Regions from separate parts of the Homo sapiens genome. Here region 2 is linked to region 1. The links come from fine-mapping of genetic effects on gene expression. A gene starts in region 1. The other region holds a variant in brackets. All regions are shown on one strand. Distances are from middle to middle. Region 1 holds the start of RASSF3 (Ras association domain family member 3). Region 2 overlaps RASSF3 (Ras association domain family member 3).

Region 1 (5,370 bases):
TTACAGGCGTAAACCACCATGCCTGGCCTAATCATGCCTTTATAAAAAAATCATTTTTTTTTAGAGAAAAGGTCTCACTATGTTGGTCAGGCTGGATAGGAACTCCTGAGTTCAAGTGATCCTCCACCTCAGCTTCCCCCTGTGCCCCACTCAATCATGCCTTTTTATTATAACTGATTCTGATGGTATGCTGACAGATATACAAATTAATCCAGTCCTTTGGAGCTTAAAAATAATACAATGAAAAAAATCATTTTTATGGTGTGGTGCATCATAAAGTTTATTTATTTATTTATTGAGACGAAGTTTTGCTCTTGTCGCCCAGACTGGAGTGCAATGGCGCCACCTCGGGTCACTGCAACCTAGGCCACTCCGGGTTCAAGCGATTCTCCTGCCTCAGCCTCCCGAGTAGCTGGCGCACGCTACCACGCCCAACTAATTTTTGTAGTTTTAGTAGAGGCGGGGTTTCACCACGTTGGCCAGGCTGGTTTCCAACTCCTGACCTCAAGTGATCCACCCGCCTCTGCCTCCTCAGGCGTGAGCCATCGCGCCCGGCCAATAAAGCATTTTAATGCATTTTTCCTCAAAGTATTCATAAACTTCAACTTGTTCTAGGTAAAATTATTTTCCCCTTTCTACCCACAATAAAATGAGTAATTTAAGCCCTTAACCTACACATTATTCTTACCTTGGAATATTTAATAAGAGCTGCGCTAATATTATATCTGAATAATGAAATAAGAGAAACCAAATAAGAAAAATTTGTCATAAAGCCCTATTCTCCTACATTAGATTATGTGCATGGCACACACACGGATCAGCTTAAGCTGGGTGAAACTATATGGAGTTAGAATTCCTGGCTTCCTATCATTCAGTAGCTGTGTGGCCGAGAAGAAGACTTTAATGTTGTAGGACCTTTAAAATGGGCTGTAACTCAAAGGCCCTCCTTCTGGAGTTGTTGTGAATCACGTGGGGTAATATATACTAGTTTACAAGATGGATGTGTAAGCCCGAAGGTGGAGCAGGTTTGCAAGCCTTCTTTCAGCCTAGGGACAGTAGGATGACTCATGAGTCAATTCTTCTCTCCTTCCCGTCATTTCGGGTCCAACTCTTCCTCCTGTAGTCCACAAAAGAGCACGGCTGACCGATACCAAGCAGAGAACCCAGTAGGGTATGTGACCACGTTCAGATCAACAGAACGCAAAGCAGAACGGTCCGAGTACTGCCTCCTACAGCCACTTTCCTTTCTTTAAGCCTCAGCTGCTGCTCTAGGTGTAAAACCGGCATAAAATAGCACTACGTACCTTGCAGAGTTGCTCGGAGGATTGAAGGAGATAATGTAAGAGAGTTTGGCTAGTTTGGCTATGATGGATGGACATTTTCTCTTTTCTAACGTCTCTCTTCCCCTCCTAATGAAACCTCTTCTGAAGCTCGCTAACTATAGCAGGGCTTGCAGCTTCAAAAAAACCTTTCAGTCAAGATCTTGAAATTAGTATTATTTAAATCAGTGCAGTAACACCAAGGTGTAAAAGACTGTTACCCACTGGTGGCTTTAAGAGGATTAGCTGACTGAAGAGTTTTAGAAAACATGGAAACTTTTTTTGTACGTGGATGGATGGAATTCCCTGATCTCCTTATCCCCACCACTTAAACCATGCCTTGTGGGTGACCGTGGAAGGCTGATTGTGGCGGGGACATTTACAAAGCACATTTAATTGATAAGCACTCGATTGTTCTGTAACTATAGAACTAGTTCACCTTTCAGTTGCACTGAGTGCGCCTAAGATAACGATCTTATTTGGAAGTGAGCCCTCGCTAGAAAGAAGGGGAAAAGGGTAAGACCGAAGCTCAAATGAATGACCAGAAAGGATGTTTTCATTCGAATAAACTCAACCCAGTTTTTGACCTCCCCACCCATCTCTGCCAACTTGAAATCCTCCTGGAGGGGCGAGCTGCTGGGGTTCAGGACTGGGCGTTGCGGCTGCAGGAAGCCGTGGGACCTGGGGGGTCCCTCGGCCGGGCAACCCCCACCCACCCCTACAGGACCCTGGTGCGGGGGCGAGCAGGGAGTGGACGCAGAGAAAGTTCCCCGCTCTGCTCCCGCCCTCTCCGAAACTCGAGCCAGCGAGGCTGGGGGCGGGCGGACGGCTCGCAGAGGAATTTGCAGTTTCCGGGAGGTTGAGGAAGCGACCCGAGCACAGCCCCAGCAGACGCAGCCCTAGCGCCCGGCTTTCCGGGTTCCGCGACGCTGTCGGGAGAAACCCGCGCGCCTGGAAGGGGCGGGCCGGGCTCCCCCCACCTGCGGGCGGGCGGGGAGGGTCGCGGCCGCGCGGGGTGGGGCTCGGCCGGTCGCCCGTCCGGGGCGGGGCCCAGGGAGGCGGGGTCGCGGGCGCACCGGGGCCGAGCCGCGCCTGGAGCCTGGCGGGGAGGCGGCAGGAGGGGCCGGGAGAGCCTGATTGAGCGGCGGCCGCAGCTGCATAAGGACTGCCCGGGGCTGCGCGCCGGGAACCTCGCGGGGCTGGCGGGCGCCGCACCCCCTCCCTGGCCGCCTGCGCCCCGGGGAGGCCGCCCGCGCGCGACGGGACCGGCAGCATGAGCAGCGGCTACAGCAGCCTGGAGGAGGACGCCGAGGACTTCTTCTTCACCGCCAGGACCTCCTTCTTCAGGAGAGCGCCCCAGGGCAAGCCCCGCTCCGGCCAACAAGTGAGTGGCGCGCGGCGGGCGCTGCAGCCCGCGCCCCAGAGTTCCGGGGAACCCGCCAGCCCGCGCCCCCTGCCTCCACGTGTCTCTGCGGGGCGCTCGGGGGATGCTCGCCGGGAAGGAGGAGCGGGCCGAGAAGTGGCTTCTGCCTTTTCGGGTCCCGGGAACGTGCCTGGAGCTTGTGCGTGTAGGCGAGGGAAGGCGGAGGAAGGGCGGGGAGGCTGAGGGCCGGCTTCTGCCTTCCGCGCCAGATGGCCTCTGCAGCTCCGCCTCGGGCTGCCGCCTGCGGGGAGCAGCCCCGGAGCCAGCAGGCGTCCCCGGGCCACTCCCCCAGGTTTCCCCTTCGCGTCCCCGCTGGGTCGACGGTCGGGTTCGCGCGCCTGTCCTTCCTGTTAGTCAGCTTACTCATCTGTGGCCCCCAGAGTGGCTTGGGTCAACGTGTAATAGCTAGGGGTGGCCGGGTGACCTGACCTCCCCTCTTCCTGGCCCGGGCGACCTGGTGGAGTGGGGGTCCAAGGGCACCGTGGGCCTCGCCACCATAGGCTCTCACTAAATCTCCGTTGCGGGACTCAGGGTTGTGCGTTTTCTGTAAAGCTAGGTTTTTTGGTGCCCAGATGTTTTGCAAACAAGCTCCTATGCTAAATACTAGCCAGCGACAGCTAACCTTTTCGCCGGTTTCTTCCTTTTTTGGAGGCAGCATGCCGTGGGAAGCACGAGTTGGGAAAAGATGGGAAGGGAACTTGTGCCAGTTTCGCCAGCTGTAGCCGTGTTTTTTGGGAGGCCTTCCCGAAACGGGGCACGTCGGCTGGACTGAGGAGCCCGGTGCTAGAGCCCGCGGCCTCCTGGCACTAGGAGCCGCACCAGGGGAGCCGGGCCAACCCGGCCACGCTCACATCAGATTACAGAAGATTGTAATGGCACAAATTTGTTGCTTTTAGAAAACAGGCGTTCGCCAAACATTTCTATTAATACCGGACTGAGACCTAGAGACTAGAAGCAAGAAGAATCGTTCAGGGGCCGGATGATAACTTCTTTTGGTGGATGTGGGAGGGTGCAATCTGTCAGGGTGGTCTTGCCAGACCTCTTAAGTTTAGCCACTTTCTGAAGTAAAATTCTTTCTAAAATTCGGAAGTTCTAGTCTTTTCAGGCTCTTAAGTCCCAAACCAGGAGGAGGAGAGGAGACGGTGAAGGGTAAGCTGAAGTCAAGTGCCCTTATTCAGTAACCGCAGTTAATCTCAAGTCCCGGTGCCATAGTTGTCCGTCTTGTATTGTTTCTAAGGCTTAAGGCCCCACTATTTACGAGTCACTTTGAGTGGGATCTCTTACTTTCAGCAGAGTGTGTTCTGAGAGCATGAGATTGCTGTGAAGTTTGGAAGTTGGAAACGCCCTCTCCTCCCCCATGCCCACCCTCCCTGGGTTGTAGAAAAATTGCATTTGCTTATGCTTTTTCCATTTTTGCTTTCTCTTTCTTGGCCTCTCTCTTCCCCTTCTCCGTTTTGCATTTTCTCCTTTCATTTATGTTGCTTTCACCACTTGACATGAAAAGGAACTCATGGTAGTTTGAAGTTTATTCCAGAGGTGTCTGCTAATCTCCTGAAAACTGGCTGGTTCTTGGATTCTCCAGGGGTGAGATGCCACAAGGGCCAAACTATTCAGGTTTGAATTGTATGAGAATCCTTTAGTGCTTTAAAGAGTAAAGACATCAGTTTTTTTCTAGGTTTATATGCATTTAGCGTTTCTTTTTTTTTTTTTTTTTTTGAGATGGAGTCTCACTGTGTTACCCAGGCTGGAGTGCAGTCGTGTGATCTCACTGCAACCTCAGCTTCCCTGGTTCAAGCGATTCCCTTGCCTCAGCTTCCCGAGTAGCTGAGATTACAGGCATGCACCACCACATCTGGCTCATTTTTGTATTTTTAGTAGAGATGGGATTTAACCATGTTGGCCAGGCTGGTCTCGAACTCCTGGCCTCAGGTAATCTGCCCGCCTTGGCCTCCCAAAGTGCAGGGATTACAGATGTGAGCCACCGCCCCCGGCACATTTATTGTTTCTATGTTGTATGCAATCATTTATGTATCATCTAGCATATATATTATACTCAGGGTAGTATTATTTAGCATTTAGAATTAGTCTAACATTAATATGTATTTTGAAATATCGTGTTGGAAATCAGGACAGGAAGACATAGTTCGTGGTTGAAGAGCTTCATATGTGTATTTGAAGCTTTATTGCCTGCATATTTTTCCCTTCTAACATAACACATGTAAGGTGCTGAGTTGTAGAAGTTATTTGCCAGGCAGAGAAAGTGTTCTAAACTACGAATTTTAGTGAGCATTGTGGTTTATTTAAAGAAGTGATATGAATGTTTTAAATTCCTGGTAAGATTGGTGAATTAGGGAAGTAAAACATCATAAATATAAAGCAAAACACTCTTAATGTAGAATGTTCCTTTTATCTAACGTTAGATAAGCCTTTTTCTTCATTTTCATGCTGATGATTATAAGAATAAGATAAGCACTTCTGACATACATCATAGTAGTGAAATTTATCCTTTCTCTAGAGAGATGGAAAGAGAGGTATTGCTAGAAGGATCTATTAGAGATACAGTGATTTTTTTTTTTTTTGGATGCTGTACCACCTGGTGGAAAAGTGAGAAAAATGAGGTTTCTAGAT
Region 2 (5,370 bases), 85 kb after region 1:
GGAGAGGAGGATGTGTTTGGAAAAAACCTCGTAGATGATGCTAGATACCCTCCTTGACATTCACTGCTTCTATTTTTTAAAATCTGTTTTAATTTTTTTTTTTTTCTTTTTAAAGAGACTAGGTCTTGCACTGTCACCCAGGCTGGAGTACAGTGGCGCAATCATGGCTCACTGCAGCCTCAATCTCCCGGGCTCAAGCAATCCTCCTACCTCAGCCTCCCAAGTAACTGGGACTACAGGAATGTACTGCCACAGCCAGATAATTTTTAAATTTTTTGTAGCGACCTGGTGTCACTATTTTGCCCAGGCTGGTCTCGAACTTCTGGTCTTGAACTTCTGGGCTCAAATGATCCTCCTGCCTAAGCATTCCAAAGTGCTAGGATTATAGGCATGAGCCACAATGCCCAGCCTAAAAACTTATTTTGTGCCTGCTAAATAAGTACTAGGAGCTGTTAGGGAAACAAGGCTCAGAGCCTCAAGGCAAGAGATAAACTCCAAATAGCGAGAAGTACGGCAGCTGTGGTGTAGGTAAGGTGCAGGTGAGATAGATATTAAGCAAATAATTGTAATTTAAAAATCTTGGTTGTGATCAGGGGCTCTGTGAAGGCTTTTGATACACTTAGCCTTGGGTGGGAAGAGAGGAGAGGAAGTTGTGGAAAGCTGCTTAGAGAAAGTGGCATTTAAGCTGAGATGGGGAGGATGAGTAGTTCATAGCCAGGCAAAGTGGAGGAGGGGAGAATGCGTGCCACTTGGGCAGAGAGTGAAGCTCGGTGAGAGAGAGATGGGGCCGGAGAGTTTAGAGTCTTTCAGACAGCATCAGCAACTAAGGGAAGCCATTGGATGGTTCTAAGCAGGGGAGAGTCTTGGCCAGATGAGCATTTTACAAAGGATGTTCTGTTTGGGGAACAGATGGGGGAGCATAAGAGCCGAGTGAGGAGGCCAGGTAGGAAGCTGTTCCAGCGATGCAGGAATAGATGATAGTAGCTAGCACCAAGGGGCCGTACCGAGGGAGAAAAGGCTGAATGGAGAACTGTTTGGGGGTGATAAGACTGATTATGCGAGGTAAGAAAGTCAGTTACAATGAGGACTCGAGGTTAAGATGAAAGGACTGTCGAATTGTTTTTAATGCTGTTGGGGGTCAAATCAGGTAAGGAATGAAAGTGTCCAATAGACTTAGGGATATGGAGGTCTCTGGCTTTTAGGGAGATCGTCTTGAACAGTGGGAGGAGAGGGTAGGAAGGTGATTGGTGTGAGCTGAGGTGGGAGTGGGAGTGGAGGGAGCCCTTAGGCTGGCAACACCCCAGCTCTTGCAGACCACACCTTCTGCGGCATGGGGCTGGGAGGGGAGGGCAGCCGCACCTCTGGGAGCTCCTGGTCAGCATTCCTAAGTCTAACTGAGTATTAAACATCTGGCATTTTTCTTTCTGTGTTTCCTGACAGTGGGAAGCCTTCAGCCTTCCAGAACTACAGAATTTCTTGCGCATCTTGGACAAGGAAGAAGATGAACAGCTGCAGAACCTGAAGAGGCGCTACACAGCCTACAGGCAGAAGCTGGAAGAAGCCCTCCGTGAGGTGTGGAAGCCTGATTAAAGCGGGGCTCCCTGCCCGTGAGGCCCGGTGCAGGACCGATGTACAAAACAGCAGCAAGTGCCTCTCTTCTCAGAGGGCTGCTGTCTTGCCCCACTATGCTAGGGTCTTCGCCTTTCTATCTGTAGATTTTGTTCCCCAAACCTGGTCACACAGCATCCTGCACCTTAGCGTCCCATGTAAGGGACTCTGCAAGCTTGTTGTTCAGCACCGCAGTGTTACCTCTTGGCAAGCTGTGAACCTGTCGCCTCATCAGGAGCATTCGAGGGTGCTTGGAAGCATGAACTCTGGGGGTGTTTTTTTTTTTGGTTATTTTAATTATGTGATGATGCTGTTAAGCTTACAGATATGCAGTTGATTTTTTAAAAAGCTTAACTAGGAATCTTTCTGAATACTTGTCCTATTTTGAAACTACCTGTCTGGTTTTTTGTTTGGTTTTGTTTTCTTTTTTTAATGTCAGAGGAATCTATCCATGTGAATCGAAAGGCACAGGAATCTAGGAACTCTGAGGAATTTATTGTGAAGGATTTTGTTAGGGGGTTGACAGAGAAAGCAAAGTGTAAGTTTGGAAGAAGGCATGTGCGGTGGTGGCGAGTGCTGCGGGCTATGGAAGGTGACTTGGCTTTTCAGTTAGGGGTAGTGGAGAAAGGGGTAGTTGCTTGTAAACGAGTTAAAAGCATTCAGTGTGGAGGTGTTAAACCCATTTTAGGATCGCTTGGTTTCCTGGTGGGTAGAATATGGGAACAGAGCCAGAGGCAGGAGCTAAACCAAAAGGAGGGACCCATGAACTCTGCAGCTGACCAATCAGAGAATCAGGCAGGTGTAGCCTACTGACCTGGGCAGAGGTGGGCCTCACGCAGCTGGATCCGACCCTTTAATTCTGCCCTTTTGGAGTGGAAGGTCTGATTGGTGTAGCTGCTCTGCATAGGCAGGACAGTGACAGTTCACTAACTCTTGTTAAGTTACATAGTGTATAGCTTTCCCCCCACAGGTGGTTTTCAAAGTTGAGACGGAATTTGGGTAGGGGCAGCTGTTTTTCCCTTGATTGTTAGCTAGGATATTTGTCAAGTAAACTTTGGTGACAATCACTCTCTTCCCTTTTATTCCTCCTTTCCTTTTCCTTTCTTCCCTTTTTTCTTTCCTTCCCTGCTGTCTCCCACCCTACCTTGTTCTTTTCCTCCCTCCCTCCCTCCCTCCCTCCCTCCCTCCCTCCTTCCCTCCCTCTCTCTCCCTCTCCCTTTCTTTTCTACATTGAAATCTGTTCTTACATAATAGAGAACAGGGCTATTGAATAAAGACCCAATCCTACCAGATCTTTAGTTCTAAAGGGCAACTTGACTGTGAGTAGGAGGGCCCCCAAGAAAGG[G/A]AGGAAAGTCCACACCCAGCTAACCACACAACAGGGCTTCATTATGGAAATATTTTAACAAAAGTACATGTTATTACCAACCAAAGAGATGCATGTGCAATAGAAGCCTTCCTTAAAAACAGGCTAAATAACCTCATTTTATGCAGCAGTTTAATCTGAGAACAGAGGGAAAGGTGTGCAGTGGTTCCAGAGGGGCCTTATATTCTATTTTTAGTCTAGATATTTTTTGTTTATAAATTCCCAAGGAATTGTTAACACTTTGGTGACACCTAATGGATTCTTTTTGAAATTCCAAGGTGCTTCAGTTCTTTGCCCAAGTGAACTGTGCCTTTTATTGCATTTCTGTTCGTCTCTTGGTGGCTCTTCTGACTTTTTGGAGAATACCCATCTTGTTGGAGGCAGACTTAAGTTGTTATGCTGTGCCACACAATTTACTGAGACAATCATATCTTCCTAAGCATTTAAGGAAAGTTGAAAAAAATAGAATTAGCTATAAAATATGTATGGCACATCTTGTTTAATTTTGCATGTAACTTCTCTTTTGTACATTGATGAGGTTTTAGTGACATTGTCATCCAACACTTTACCTTTATTGTTCAGGGAATGCCTTCGTGATTTTTTGTACTGGTTTTATTATTCAGACTATGGCCTGGATTTGAGTATATTGTTATTACCACCTGGTTTTTTAATTATTCATCCCAGTAAACTTATATTTTGTGAAGCATTTGTTTCTCAGATTAAGACACTGTTAGAACCTAAAGTAGTAGCTGATGGGTATCTGTGAATTTTTTTTTTTTTTTTTTTTTTACTTGAAGTAGATTGTCTGAATAGGCATCCTCATCTATATTTACCCAAAACCTCGCTTACTGTCATGTGCACTACAAATTGCAATTTGGAAACCTACTGTATTGAAATTCTGTCAGTTTATGGTTCTTGAAGACTGATGTCCTTTCCCAAACACTGGTTACTGCAGCAGCATTTTTAATGTGTAAGTGAAGAAAAAAGGCCACTAAGGCCAAAGATTTTTTAAGAATCATTGTACAAATCATTATGTTAAACTATCTAAGCTTTGCTGTAATACTGTTTTCTCTTCAATATGTGATGGTACAGGAAGGATGTTAAATGAAGGGGTGGTATTGCAGGAGAGCATTTTAAATGGCAGAAGTAAAAAGTTATAATATTTATAATTTTGATGGGTTTAAGTTTATTTTTGTAGGGAAGATTTTTCTCCCCTAAAATAGTTTCTAGAATGGCAAAATTGTTTCCATTATTAAAAATTGAAGTTATTAGTTGTTTATGTGTGTTTATTTATGATAATATGCTAGATTTAAAAAGGTCACAGGAGTGCGCTGAGCTGCTTTTGCACATATACACAGGGACACATGCTGGAATGCAACAACTTTACTAGGTTCGCGTGGGTCATATTTGTTCTCCCAGATATCATTTTCTCTTTGCCTTATCCTCTGAGGAAAAATAACCCTAAGCTCACACAGCATATTCCAATGTATTTAAAACAATTGTTTTAATTTTTGAAATATACACATTTAAAAGTATATAAAGCATGCAAAAGAGGAGGGAGGCCGAGAGTGAAAAAATAAAAATAAAAAAGCATGCGAACAGTTTAAAGGATTATTATATAAAATGGACACCCCCTGACCATTACTAAAATAGAACCTTGTCAGTTCTTTAGAAATCTCTCCCTCCACCCCTGTTCTTGCCCTGAGGTCTCCTACCCCTGAAACATACCACTTCAACATAAAGTGAGTATTTGTATTTTTTTGGTCACCATGACTGCCTTACACAGATGGGATGGATAGTGTCTGGGGAACCACAGGGACGATGGAGTGCCACCCTCTGCGCACCTGCACCTCGGCTTTGTGCCATGGTTTCAGCTTCCATGCCTGCTGTTGGGAGTGTTTTTACTACTACACTGCCCCCTGGAGGGGCTGATGAAAGGAGCAAGGCTGGCACCAGGTGGTAGAGGCCTTTCACGTACCATAGCTGCTCCCTAAATAAAAATACTGTGATAGAAAATTATGGCTCTGTATAATTTTGCTTTTCTACTGAAATATTCAGAGGAATCAGGTTTGGGGGTTCTACTTGGGTTACTACCCAAGGTGCGTGGAGAATGTTTGGGAATTTTTATATTTTTATCCTTTATTTTTTTTGGAGATGGAGTCTCAATGTGCCACCCAGGCTAGAGTGCAGTGGCATGATCTTGGCTCACTGTAACCTCCACCTCCCAGGTTCAAGCGATTCTCCTGCCTCAGCCTCCCTAGTAGCTGGGATTACAGGTGCCTGCCACCATACCCGACTAATTTTTTTTTTTGTATTTTTAGTAGCGACGGGGTTTCTCCACGTTGGCTAGGCTGGTCTCAAACTCCTGACCTCAAGTGACCAACACACCTCAGCCTCCC

Evidence for each region.
Region 2: its variant is fine-mapped to the expression of RASSF3 in whole blood (TOPMed, PIP above 0.99). The same link has a PIP of 0.9 or more in blood mononuclear cells.

What each region holds. Positions count from the first base shown.
Region 1 is chr12:64,608,041-64,613,410 of GRCh38, forward strand. RASSF3 (Ras association domain family member 3) reads left to right here and starts at 2,455. Exons shown (of 5, transcript NM_178169.4): 1 at 2,455-2,703. The coding sequence starts at 2,593. It overlaps RASSF3-DT (RASSF3 divergent transcript), which reads right to left and starts at 1,426. Exons shown (of 2, transcript NR_187549.1): 1 at 1,305-1,426. RefSeq lists enhancers at 995-1,044, 1,265-1,324 and silencers at 1,955-2,024, 2,185-2,704, 2,915-2,984.
Region 2 is chr12:64,693,323-64,698,692 of GRCh38, forward strand. It overlaps RASSF3 (Ras association domain family member 3), which reads left to right. Exons shown (of 5, transcript NM_178169.4): 5 at 1,441-4,242. The coding sequence ends at 1,590. Among named protein-coding and RNA genes, the nearest start is that of GNS, 63 kb to the right of the region's middle. RefSeq lists a silencer at 867-1,161. The variant G/A (reference allele first, on the strand shown) is at 2,954.